3 linked regions of the Homo sapiens genome follow. The protein of the gene in region 2 purifies or fractionates together with the protein of the main gene of each other region. This does not show direct contact. Each region holds a gene or a part of one and is shown on either strand. Other genes may lie near its edges.

What was found.
Region 1: the proteins of CEBPZ (region 2) and PUM3 fractionate together in Homo sapiens (co-fractionation; one large-scale study listed by BioGRID). This does not show direct contact.
Region 3: the proteins of CEBPZ (region 2) and E2F3 purify together in Homo sapiens (pull-down; one large-scale study listed by IntAct). This does not show direct contact.

The regions. Positions count from the first base shown.
Region 1 is NC_000009.12:2,823,516-2,827,170, reverse strand, and holds part of PUM3 (pumilio homolog 3), read left to right. Parts: intron 1-19; coding exon 20-98; intron 99-2,355; coding exon 2,356-2,454; intron 2,455-3,336; coding exon 3,337-3,390; intron 3,391-3,655. UniProt on the Homo sapiens protein: Inhibits the poly(ADP-ribosyl)ation activity of PARP1 and the degradation of PARP1 by CASP3 following genotoxic stress. Binds to double-stranded RNA or DNA without sequence specificity. Involved in development of the eye and of primordial germ cells.
Region 2 is NC_000002.12:37,218,058-37,221,712, forward strand, and holds part of CEBPZ (CCAAT/enhancer-binding protein zeta), read right to left. Parts: intron 2,417-3,655; coding exon 2,328-2,416; intron 1-2,327. UniProt on the Homo sapiens protein: Stimulates transcription from the HSP70 promoter.
Region 3 is NC_000006.12:20,481,731-20,485,385, reverse strand, and holds part of E2F3 (transcription factor E2F3), read right to left. Parts: intron 2,625-3,655; coding exon 2,466-2,624; coding exon of another isoform or gene 2,437-2,465; intron 1-2,436.

The sequences.
Region 1 (3,655 bases), on a different chromosome or scaffold from region 2:
TTTTTTTTTCTGTTTTCAGGGAAGCTGTGATTAAGCACTCATTGGTGCATAAAGTATTCTTGGACTTTTTTACCTATGCACCCCCCAAACTCAGATCAGTAAGTTCTTGGTTTTTGTTTTTAAACTAAAACATGGAGGAGGAGCGGTGTAGAAATTTGAAAAACTGCTTTGATGTACGTTGTCTTGTGGAAATTTTAGAGTTGCTTCCTTATTTAGGGAAGATAATTTACTCAACTCCCTTTGAACACGTTTGCTAATTCCATTTAGGTTTTATTCCAGTAAACAATAGAATTGACCCTAGTTTTACTAATCATATTAAATTTTTATATCTTAATTATAATCCAGAGAGTATCCGCTGGCTAACCTAATCTGAAAATTAACTAACTCGTGGAGGAATATTCAAGCATTCGGATAGTTTTAAATTCAACTGTGCTAATACAAAAAAAAAATTAGCTTGGCATTAAAAGGTTAGAGGAGGATATGTTTGTAAAACTAAGTGGACGATGAAAACCTGGACTTTATATCATAGAAGAACAGAGTGAAGGTAAATTGCACTGCCCTTCAAGTCAGTCATGGGAATACAAATGAGAATTCATCATTTAGTTCCCTGAACTTTGCTTGCCTCATCATACAGTGAGCTCATTGTCCATTTGTCCTCATTTTCCAATCACAAGGGATAATGAAAATAATGAGACTGACTTAACAAATAACGCCAGACTATACATTCATTGGAGTTTTGACCCTCTTAAAATTGGCATGCAAAATAATTTCCTGATGGTAGCCACCCACGTAAGCTTATGGTTTGATGACCATAGCAGCACCTTCTGTTTTGGAGATTTTTCTTACTTCCTGAAAAATACAGTATCCCACGGTTCTGAGGCAGGACTATATGCTCAGAAATGACACAATGATTATTTGAATATATTCAGTGGTAGAAAGTATCTTTTTAGTGTTGAATGTTTCAGTAACAGCAAAAAATCATTTGGAACTTAGCATGCGTGTAAAGTAATGAGACAAATTGTCTTTTCTGGTATTGGGGGCATTTTCAAAAGAGACTTAAAAAAAAAAAAACCTTCGGGGAAAATGGAAGCATAATTGGAATATATGCATGGCTTTCCATCTGGATAGCTCTGAAGAGATTCCTAAGTTCAGATATGTTAGTTGAAACTGCTCTTGAGAGTCATCTTGGGAAGGGATTGTTAGATACTTGAGGCTGAAATTGTTTGTTCCTTATTGATGAAATTAGGCACCTACCCTCTCTTTCGTGGCATGAGGCTTTGTATTTATTTAATGTACATTTTTAAATTGGGAATAGACTAAAATGGAGCTCTGCACTTGTTAGTTGCCAGAACTCATTTACATCCTACATGCCTTAGACTTTGAAAATATAGGGCCAGGCACGGTGGCTCACACCTGTAATCCCAGCACTTTGGGAACCCGAGGCGGGCAGATCACAAGGTCAGTAGTTCGAGACCAGCCTGGCCAATATGGTGAAACCCAGTCTCTACTAAAATACAAAAATTAGCCGGGGGTGGTGGCGGGCACCTGTAGCCCCAGCTACTCGGGAGGCTGAGGCAGGAGAATTGCTTGAACCTGGGAGGTGGAGGTTGCAGTAAGCCAAGATGGCACCACTGCACTCCAGCCTGGGTGACAGAGCAAGACTCCGTCTCCAAAAAAAAAAGAAAATGTAAATAAGAAATTATATACATGGAAAATGAAGGCTAAAGGTTAAATTAAGCTAAGCTACCTAGTGAGAAATTAAATGTTTTTTACTAAAGGGTCATTTTATAGGTGAGGTCTTAGTCTAAATGTTAGTATAGAAATTTTTCATGAGGAAATGTTATGTAAGCGTGTTTATGGTAAAGAATGTGATTTTTGGAGATAATCCAGTTATGAACTGAAAAGGGAAGCTTTTCAGTCAAAATGAGTGTTTTGATTCTGTTTATTGCATACAGGTCTCTTTTGGGGAAGAGCATTTTCTTTGTCTCGCTATTCTGTTAAAAGCTCCCTTCTTATCACCACCACCTCCTAGGCTTCTTTTTCTTGGAAAATTATTTAGAATATATTATATTACACATATAGCTTGACCTTTTTTTTAACAGACATTGGTAAAAGTCAGGTATTGTTTTTAATAGATATTGTCTGCCAGCAGTATTTACTGCTCTTGATGGAAAAGAACATTTCTAGAAAGAGCTCGTGTTTCTGTTTGATTGTCTACAAAATGAAATTGTTTGCTACCTGGCACTCTCTTCCTTTCCTTCTCTCTGCATAACTGCCCCCTGTAGACAGACAGATAAAACAGTAGAAAGAAGAAAATAAAGCAGAGCCCTGTTCCTGACAGCATTTGTTCCCTAGGAAATGATTGAAGCCATCCGCGAAGCGGTGGTCTACCTGGCACACACACACGATGGCGCCAGAGTGGCCATGCACTGCCTGTGGCATGGCACGCCCAAGGTAAGTGTGACAGCACTTGGGCATTTAAACTGTACAAGTCAGGGCCATGCTTTATCTGCAGGCTTGACTTAGCTGTCCTTAGACTTTTAACCCCCTTTGGTCTTTGCCCTGTTGTGCATTATCTTCCAAAAGTTGTGCCTTAGAGCCTGATGGGAATGAGCCATCTTCTTTAGGCCTAGTGTTTCTTCTTTCCTCTGCTTTAGTAGAAACCTTGAAGTTTCATTAAAGGATGGGAAGAGATCTATCAAGCAAGTAAACATAATATGTATTTAAGCTTTAGTTTATAGAGGTTTTGGTACCTCCTCTTTTAATGATCATACTGTGGCAGGGGAAAATGGGAAGAGATAACAAACAGCTGGCCACACACATTTGCTCCCATAGGTGTTATGTACTTGAGGGAAAAGGTAAAGATCCTTATTAATCACAGAAGTTTAACAGAAATTATCATTATTTCCTTGGTCAGCATAATTCTGCCTTTAAAAGATAGTTGTACTATATCTACTTTTTTTAATGCAAATTTAATTTTATTCAACAAATGCAGATGAGTACTAACTGTTTGCTAGACTCTGCATTTGAGGACAGTTTAGACCTTGGAAGAAGGATCTGTCTGGTCTCACTGTGAAAGGTGGCTTGCAAACCCTAACCCTAACCCTAACCCTAACCCTAACCCTATCACATACACATCTAAGCTTGTAATAGCTCTAAGCCAACTTCTTTGGTATATTACAGTTTTTTTGTTCTGGCTGTATAACTATTATTTTTACTAATGAAAACATATGCCACTCAAATGAAAACTTAATAAATATTATATTAAAATGTTTAACTACAAAATACCCTTAATACATAACTGAAAATTCAGTGAGACAATCTTTCCTTTTTAAGGACAGGAAAGTGATTGTGAAAACAATGAAGACTTATGTTGAAAAGGTGGCTAATGTAAGTATAATAAAACTACATATTCTAATTATTTTTGATAGTAAGATGAATTCATGTCTATTATAGAAAATTTGGAAAAATTCAGAAAATTACCAAGCAGAAAATTATTGTTTTATTATATTTTTCTTTGCATCTACATGTATTTTCATATTTTATCTACACAAAATGGAAATCATGTCACATGCATTCTTTTCTCCTTTTTTAATTTAACATTGTATTGTGATAGTTCTCTACTTTTATTAGATATTCTTTGAAAACCTGATAT
Region 2 (3,655 bases):
GAGATCGAGACCATCCTGGCTAACACGGTGAAACCCCGTCTCTACTAAAAATACAAAAAATTAGCCAGGCGTGGCGGTGTGCGCCTGTAGTCTCAGCTACTCGGGAGGCTGAGGCAGGAGGATGGTGTGAACCCGGGAGGCGGAGCTTGCAGTGAGCTGAGATCGCACCACCGCACTCCAGCCTGGGCGACAGAGCAAGACTCTGCCTCAAAAAAAAAAAGAAAAAAGAAAAAAAGAAAAATAATTATGCTTCAGGACGAAATATATAGCGAGTAGTATTACTTTACAGTTTTGCAAATCTCTTTAATGTCTGGCTTAACAGAAGAGAGTGGATTATTTCATCTGCTTCTGTATTCCACGTTGAAACATACAATCTGGCCTCATGTGTAGAAAATAGTCTTTCACATAGCTGTGAATTTTCTTCTTTAGTACTATACCAAAACCAAAGATTAGTTGTAATATGGAATCTGAAACCCATATTCAATTGGCTTTTGGTACTTGCTACTTAAAATTATTTGGTCTACTTTGAATCAATCATTTATTCACTCAAGAATTTGTAACATTCAGGTGGCACAGTGGCTCATGCCTGTAATCCCAGCACTTTGGGAGGCTGAGGTAGGTGGATCACCTGAAGTCAGGAGTTCGAGACCAGCCTGGACAACATGGCAAAACACTGTCTGTGCTAAAAATAAAAAAATTAGCTGGGCATGGTGGCATGCTCCTGTAATCCCAGCTACTCAGGAGGTAGAGGTTGCAGTGAGCCGAGATCGCGCCACTGCATTCCAGTATGGGTGACAGAACCTTCTCGTTTCAAAAAAAAGAATTTGTAACATTGTGCATTGGTCATTGGAAAAATACCATATGCAGTCCTTCCAAACACTGGCACATTTCGTTATACTTTACCACAACAATCACATTGTTAGAACCACTGATTTCATCAGAAAAGTTTTACAAATTGAGAAACTGTCAAGCTCAAGGTGGTGGTTACAAGATTTTTAAAACTTTAATCTTTGCTCGAAAGCTTTATTTTTGAATTTTATTGCTGACAACAAATACTGCCAGCTTTTTTGTTTCATTCATTTTCAAGAAAATATCTCCCAAATACCTAAGCCTGAATAACCAGTTTGTCAGTCTTTCATGAAAGAGCAGCTAGATGAGCTTGCAACAACTGGTAAGCACTTGTCCTTGAGACACGTGACAACCTTCATGCTTTAGGTAGGCAGCACAGGTATGTTACGCATACTTGCTATGTATGCACACGAAATACTAAAAAGACATGTTACTTTAAGGTCAAGACACTAAAATCAGTAATTCTCCCTGTGTCATCATTCTTAAGTCATACTGGCTTTTTTTTTTTTAACTGCACATATGTGGCAGTGATGAATATAATGGCTTCTGATGCAGCTTGGTGCTGTCTTTATTCAGGATAAGCTGCAGCAGTTTTACCTATCATTTCTTTTATAGTATCAGTGCCACCGTCAACACAGTGATGAAAACAAATAATGTACTGGTATTACTATGGAAAGAGCTGTGACCTGGCCGACTCACTAAAAAGGTATCAGGAACTCTTAGTGGTCTGGCCGCACTTTGAGAATAGCTGCATAAGATACTTACTGGCTTTACACAAAAAGTCACAGAAAGGTTATTAAAAATATGAATTCCTCTTACAAATTCAGAAAAGTAACTTTACTTGCAAAAAATTTTATCATAAAACTTTTCAGAGGTATCTAATAAATAAAGCAAAATTTATCCATTTTCTCAACTCTATATGCAATAATCTACCTACAAAAAGCAACAGTCATAACCCATGCATGACATCCTTATTTTACGTGCACACTTAAGATTTTCTACAAAATGAACACTTCACATAGTATCTTCCCCCAAATGTGGACTTTTAATGTTTATTAATGCTTATAATTATCATAAAAAAACAAAAACTTCAAGGCATTACATCCTCAAGGGCAAAAATATACAGCATAGGCCGGGCGCAGTGGCTCATGCCTGTAATCCCAGCACTTTGGGAGGCTGAGGCAGGCGGATCACAAGGTCAGGAGATCAAGACCATCCTGGCCAACATGGTGAAACCCCGTCTCTACTAAAAATACAAAAATTAGCTGGGCGTGGTGGTGGGCGCCTGTAATCCCAGCTACTTGGGAGGCTGAGCCAGGAGAATGGCTTGAACCCGGAAGGCGGACGTTACAGTGAGCCACAATCATGCCACTGCACTCCAGCCTGGTGACAGAGGAAGACTCTGTCTCAAAAAAAAAAAAAATATATATATATATATATAGCATAAATGAATAAAAGACAATTTGAAATTATTTTACCTTTTTGAGTTCCCAAAGACTTGTATTTTCAGCTCCACAGAACAGAGGGTTTCTACTGAATGGATCGTATTTATTTAACTGTTTCCCACCTAGGAATAACAAAAAAAATACGATTTCTCAAATGCTTTCTTCCTAGCCCAAGAGGTCATTAAAAGCACCACCATTAATATTCTCAACAGATATCTCCAACATTCTTACTTAGCCAAGCAACCTAGATTAAAAACTCTGAGCTCCCTCAAGAATTTGTCTTGGTACTTAAGCTAGCATCTGCTCTTGAATAAAGCAGAGAACATGTTTATCCCAAACACCAAAAGCTTTCTTCAAGGCCAGGTGCAGTGGCTCACACCTGTAATCACAGCACTTAGGGAGGCTGAGGCGAGTGGATCATTTGAGTTCAGGAGTTCGAGACCAGCCTGGGCAAAATGGTGAAACCCCATCTCTTACAAAAAATACAACAAAAAAACTAGCCAGGTGTGGTGGTGTGTGCCTGTAGTCCCAGCTATTCGGGAGACTGAGGTGGGAGGATCACTTGAGCCCAGGAGATGGGAGTTGCAGTGAACCAAGATCGTGCCATTGTGATCCAGCCTTCCTGACAGAGCAAGACCCTGACTCAAAAATAAGTAAGTAAAAGCTCCCTTCAAAACTTCTCCTTTGGCTGGGCACAATGGCTCATGCCTATAATCCCAGCACTTTGGGAGGCCAAGGTGGAAAGGCTGCTTGAGACCAAGAGCTCGAGACCAGCCGGTGCACAGAGTGGGATTTCGTCTCTACAAAAAACACAACTAGCCATACCTGGTGGCACGAGCCTGTAGTCCCGGCTACCTGGGAGGCTGAGGTGGGAGGATCGCTTGAGTTCAGGAGTTTGAGGCTGCAGTGAGCCATAATGGCCCACTGTACTCCAGCCTGGCCTGGGTGACATAGTGAGACCCTGTCTCAAAAAAAACAAAAACCAAACCAAAAAACCCCAAACTTCTCCCTTTCCTAAATGGCAACAAAAGGTGCCCATTTTGGGGCCAAAGAGGTGGAAACGTTAAGATGGAAATAATCTGAAGATGAACTAGGTCTAAAGTCTTTTGGAGCTTTAGAGTGCTTCAAATATTTGTCATGAAAGTATGCCCAGAAATAATTCTCACTTGGAACAGGTCTGACATTATCTTCATGTTTTTAGAAACTCAGGATTAAAAAAATTTAAAACAAAGATTTTTCAGAACAAACTAGGAACTGACTACCTTCCAACACACAAGCTCTTCATCCTTCTAAAGGATTATTCTCAGTTTAGTCTTCAGGGGAACTGATGGATTCTTCTCAAACTTTTCTGGCAGCTATCA
Region 3 (3,655 bases), on a different chromosome or scaffold from region 2:
GCTGGTCTTGAACTCCTGGACTCAAGTGATCTGCCTGCCTCCGGCCTCCCAAAGTGCTGGGATTACAGGTGTGAGCCACGGCGCCCGGCCTTGGTCATTTTTTCTAAGCACTGAACCATTCTTTTAAATGTCCTGACAGCCAAGCCTAAAAGGCTATCATGAAAGAATATGGTACTTACGATATGACAAAAGTATTCAATTAATGTACAATGTCTTTAGCCCGTTATTATTTTTTATATGTACCCACAAAAAATTCCTAGGATAAAACAGCAAGTAACAAACCAATGAAGGCATTTCAGCAGGTAGTATAACGTATTTAATGGCTAATAGAGTCCGTGATCTAATATGTTTAATATAAAAAAAAGGGGGGGCTTAGAGACCCTAGAATAAATCATGTCCCTTACGATAGTAGCTTCTTTTTTTTTTTTTTTTTGAGACGGACTCCCACTCTGTCACTAAGGCTGGAGTGCAGTGGCACGATTTCAGCTCACTGCCACCTCTGTCTCCCAGGTTCAAGTGATTCTCCTGCCTCAGCCTCCCGAGTAGCTGGGATTACAGGCATGAGCCACCGTGCCTGGCTGTAGTAGCTTCTTATTAGAAACTGAATGCAGCTATGGAACTACTACTCCAGAAAGAAAGCACATTCACACGAAATCTGCATACACATGTAGGGGATCTATCACAGACTATCTCCTTCAAATCTTTACAGTTGAGATGATGGCTAATTCAGTGTTGAGCTTGTAGTGGCTGCTCTTGCAGGATTCTGGGTTTTAGGTCACTACATAACCCATCAAAGAAGTCAACGGATGCCTTTATAGAGGGCCAGGCAGTTCTGATTTTTTACTGAGAACACTGGAAAAAACTGACAACCAGGTACTTACACTACAGCTCACTGTCAAAAAGCTGTATGACAAGAACTTATTAAAATAAAAACTCATCACTTCTTGGCCTTTTGGCTAAGATCAAGTGTAAAAGAAAAACTCATCTACGATTACTCAACATGCTGCAGGAAGGAAAATTTCAACACATTTGTGAACAAGCTGTACCAATTTGGGAACTGAATGGTGAACTGAAATAAATTGTGCAAATGTATTTTCTAATCTTACAAACTTAAAAGTGCTTCCTTTGTGGCTCCCTCCTGAATTTACTCCTTGGGTTCGAAGTTCCCTGCAAGGAAGCTTTCATTTTCTGCAACAAAGGCCCCAGAGAGAGCTAATATAGGTGACAATGCCATAAGCCACATGTCCCGGAAGGCTGCCAATCACATGTAACCACCCATCTCTTCCACAATGGGGCTCCCAACCAAACAATGAATGAAACAGCCCAACTGTTGGTTTCTTCCCCTGTAAACCCACTCTGCCAACCACTGGGGGTCCAAATCACTACGCCTCTCTTCCATCTCACTAATTATCGGCTGACAAGGTTAATTCTTTGGTCAACAGGAAATGAACAATTGCAGGTTTGAAAAACTGCCAACATTGGAAGAAAATAAATATCTCCATATTCTCCAAGGGGGAGCCTGTTAAAGATGAGACACTAGAAGAATCTGGGCAGAACACTTTTTAGTTTTTGTCAAATAATGGTAAATGTGCAATCATCAGAAGTTTGGAACTAAAACTAGAGATGGGATAACTTACAGTACTGTTTTTTGTCTTCTAATAACTGAGAATATTGGCAAGTCTTGTTTGACATAATGAGGCAATCTCTCTCTTACTTTGTCTGTAGTGAGATGATGAAGAGCAAGTTTTCCTGAGATCGTCAATAGATTGTCAGGAAGTTGAGAACAAGAACTGACCTTTTGTATTTTTATTTGCGAGGACTAATGTTTGTAGTGGAACAGAGGAATTGAGAGGGGTTTCTCAGGTCTTGGGGTGCTTTTGAAATCAGTTTTTTCATTGGGAATCAGCAGAATGCACTTTAAGAGTTATAGTATGATTTTTCTCTACTCTTTCAAACCCTTCAACTATAGCCCAATCAGATAGATTCAACCAATTTCAATTGCTACGATATCTGGTGAGAAGAAAATAGAATGTGAGAACCCCAACAGTGACAGCTAACACCCACCAAAAATCTGGGAAGCCAAAGACGAATCTGCTTAGTGTTGTCATTAATATTAATACCGACACCTTATGTATCTTTTAATAGTGTGGCCTTACGCTACGAGTATACCCATGTCTCAACCACACATGAAAAAATGCTTTAAAAAACAGTTCCCACCTGGTATCAAAATAGATAATAATAGGATCGAGTTGGTGACTATCTTACCATAAATACTGACTTTTTAGGCAAAGCTAACTGGGTTTACACACACACGTGCACACACACACACATACACACACAGGCACACAGGTACTCATTTGCATGACATCAGAATAATAATCTACCTTGTGCATAAGTCAGATTGTCAACTCTGGAAATAGTCTAGGAAGCACTAACCCCCAGAGAACTGGCGGCACAAAGGATATCTTTGATTCTCTGAATCCTCGGTTAACAGTTTGAGGTCCAGGGTGCAGCTTTGGATCAGTTCATCTAATTTCTTCTCTTCCTGACTGAGCTCGGTCACTTCTTTTGACAGGCCTTGACACTGGGCCAGCATGCCCCCATCCTCAGACAGACTGCAGCCCCTAGAAACCCAAACACAGACTCTTCATGGCTACTCATGGGAGGGAGGGGAAGGAGAAATGATCCTTTGGGTAAATGTCTCCTCTTGACATAGGAGGTCACATTGCTTGTTAGCCAAGTGTTAAAATTAGAACATTTACACATATATATATATATATATATATTTTTTTTTTCATAAATACAGTTCTGCACTTTTCACAGCATAGAAATTTAGTGAAAGCGCACTGCTATTTTCAGGATTCTTTCCTCCAGGGGAGGTCTACTTCTTCAGAAGGTTCAAATTCAGAGGGCAAAAGAAGGCAACCACCTTCCTCCCTTGCCTCATGGCTCCCAGGTGGTGGGGGAAGAAAGGCGAAAAAGGATAAAAAGATAGAGAAAGACAGAGAAGATGGAATGGTTCAAAATTAAAAAAAAAAAAAAACAAAAAAACAACCCATCCAAAAAAGCATCAAAAACTCAGGTAATTACTGAGGGTCTTATATCAACAACTAAAAAGAAAAGAAAGTAAAGGAAACAGATGTATGTGATGTATGCAAGAACTGAGACTAGTGCACAATATGTTTCTCTAAACCAGAGGCCAAAACGGGTTACCAAACTGTCAACAAAATTCCAAAATGTGCAAAAAAAGGTATGTATTCATCTTCCATCTGAATTAGTATCTTTTCAAAGCCCTCCTGTAACAGAATTATTCCTTCCAAAATGCTTTAATAATTCAATACTGTGCTTATAGTGGCTATTTAGATGCTCTAAAATTCACAAAATATATTACATATGTAATCATACGTGTGGCTGTATAAGTATCATGCTACCATCCCTGCTCTACAGACGAAATGGAGGCATTTAAGTCTTGCCTTAATTTACCCAGAAAGTGAGTTAATCTGCTATTAGAACCATGGATAAAGATATTCTGTAACTATGCAGTTGTACGTATACACATAGATAACCCATAAGCCATCATTTCCAGATTCTTATTAGAAACAAGCTGAAGACGTGTACACATCTGTCAGATACACACGTGGGTGCACACAGACAT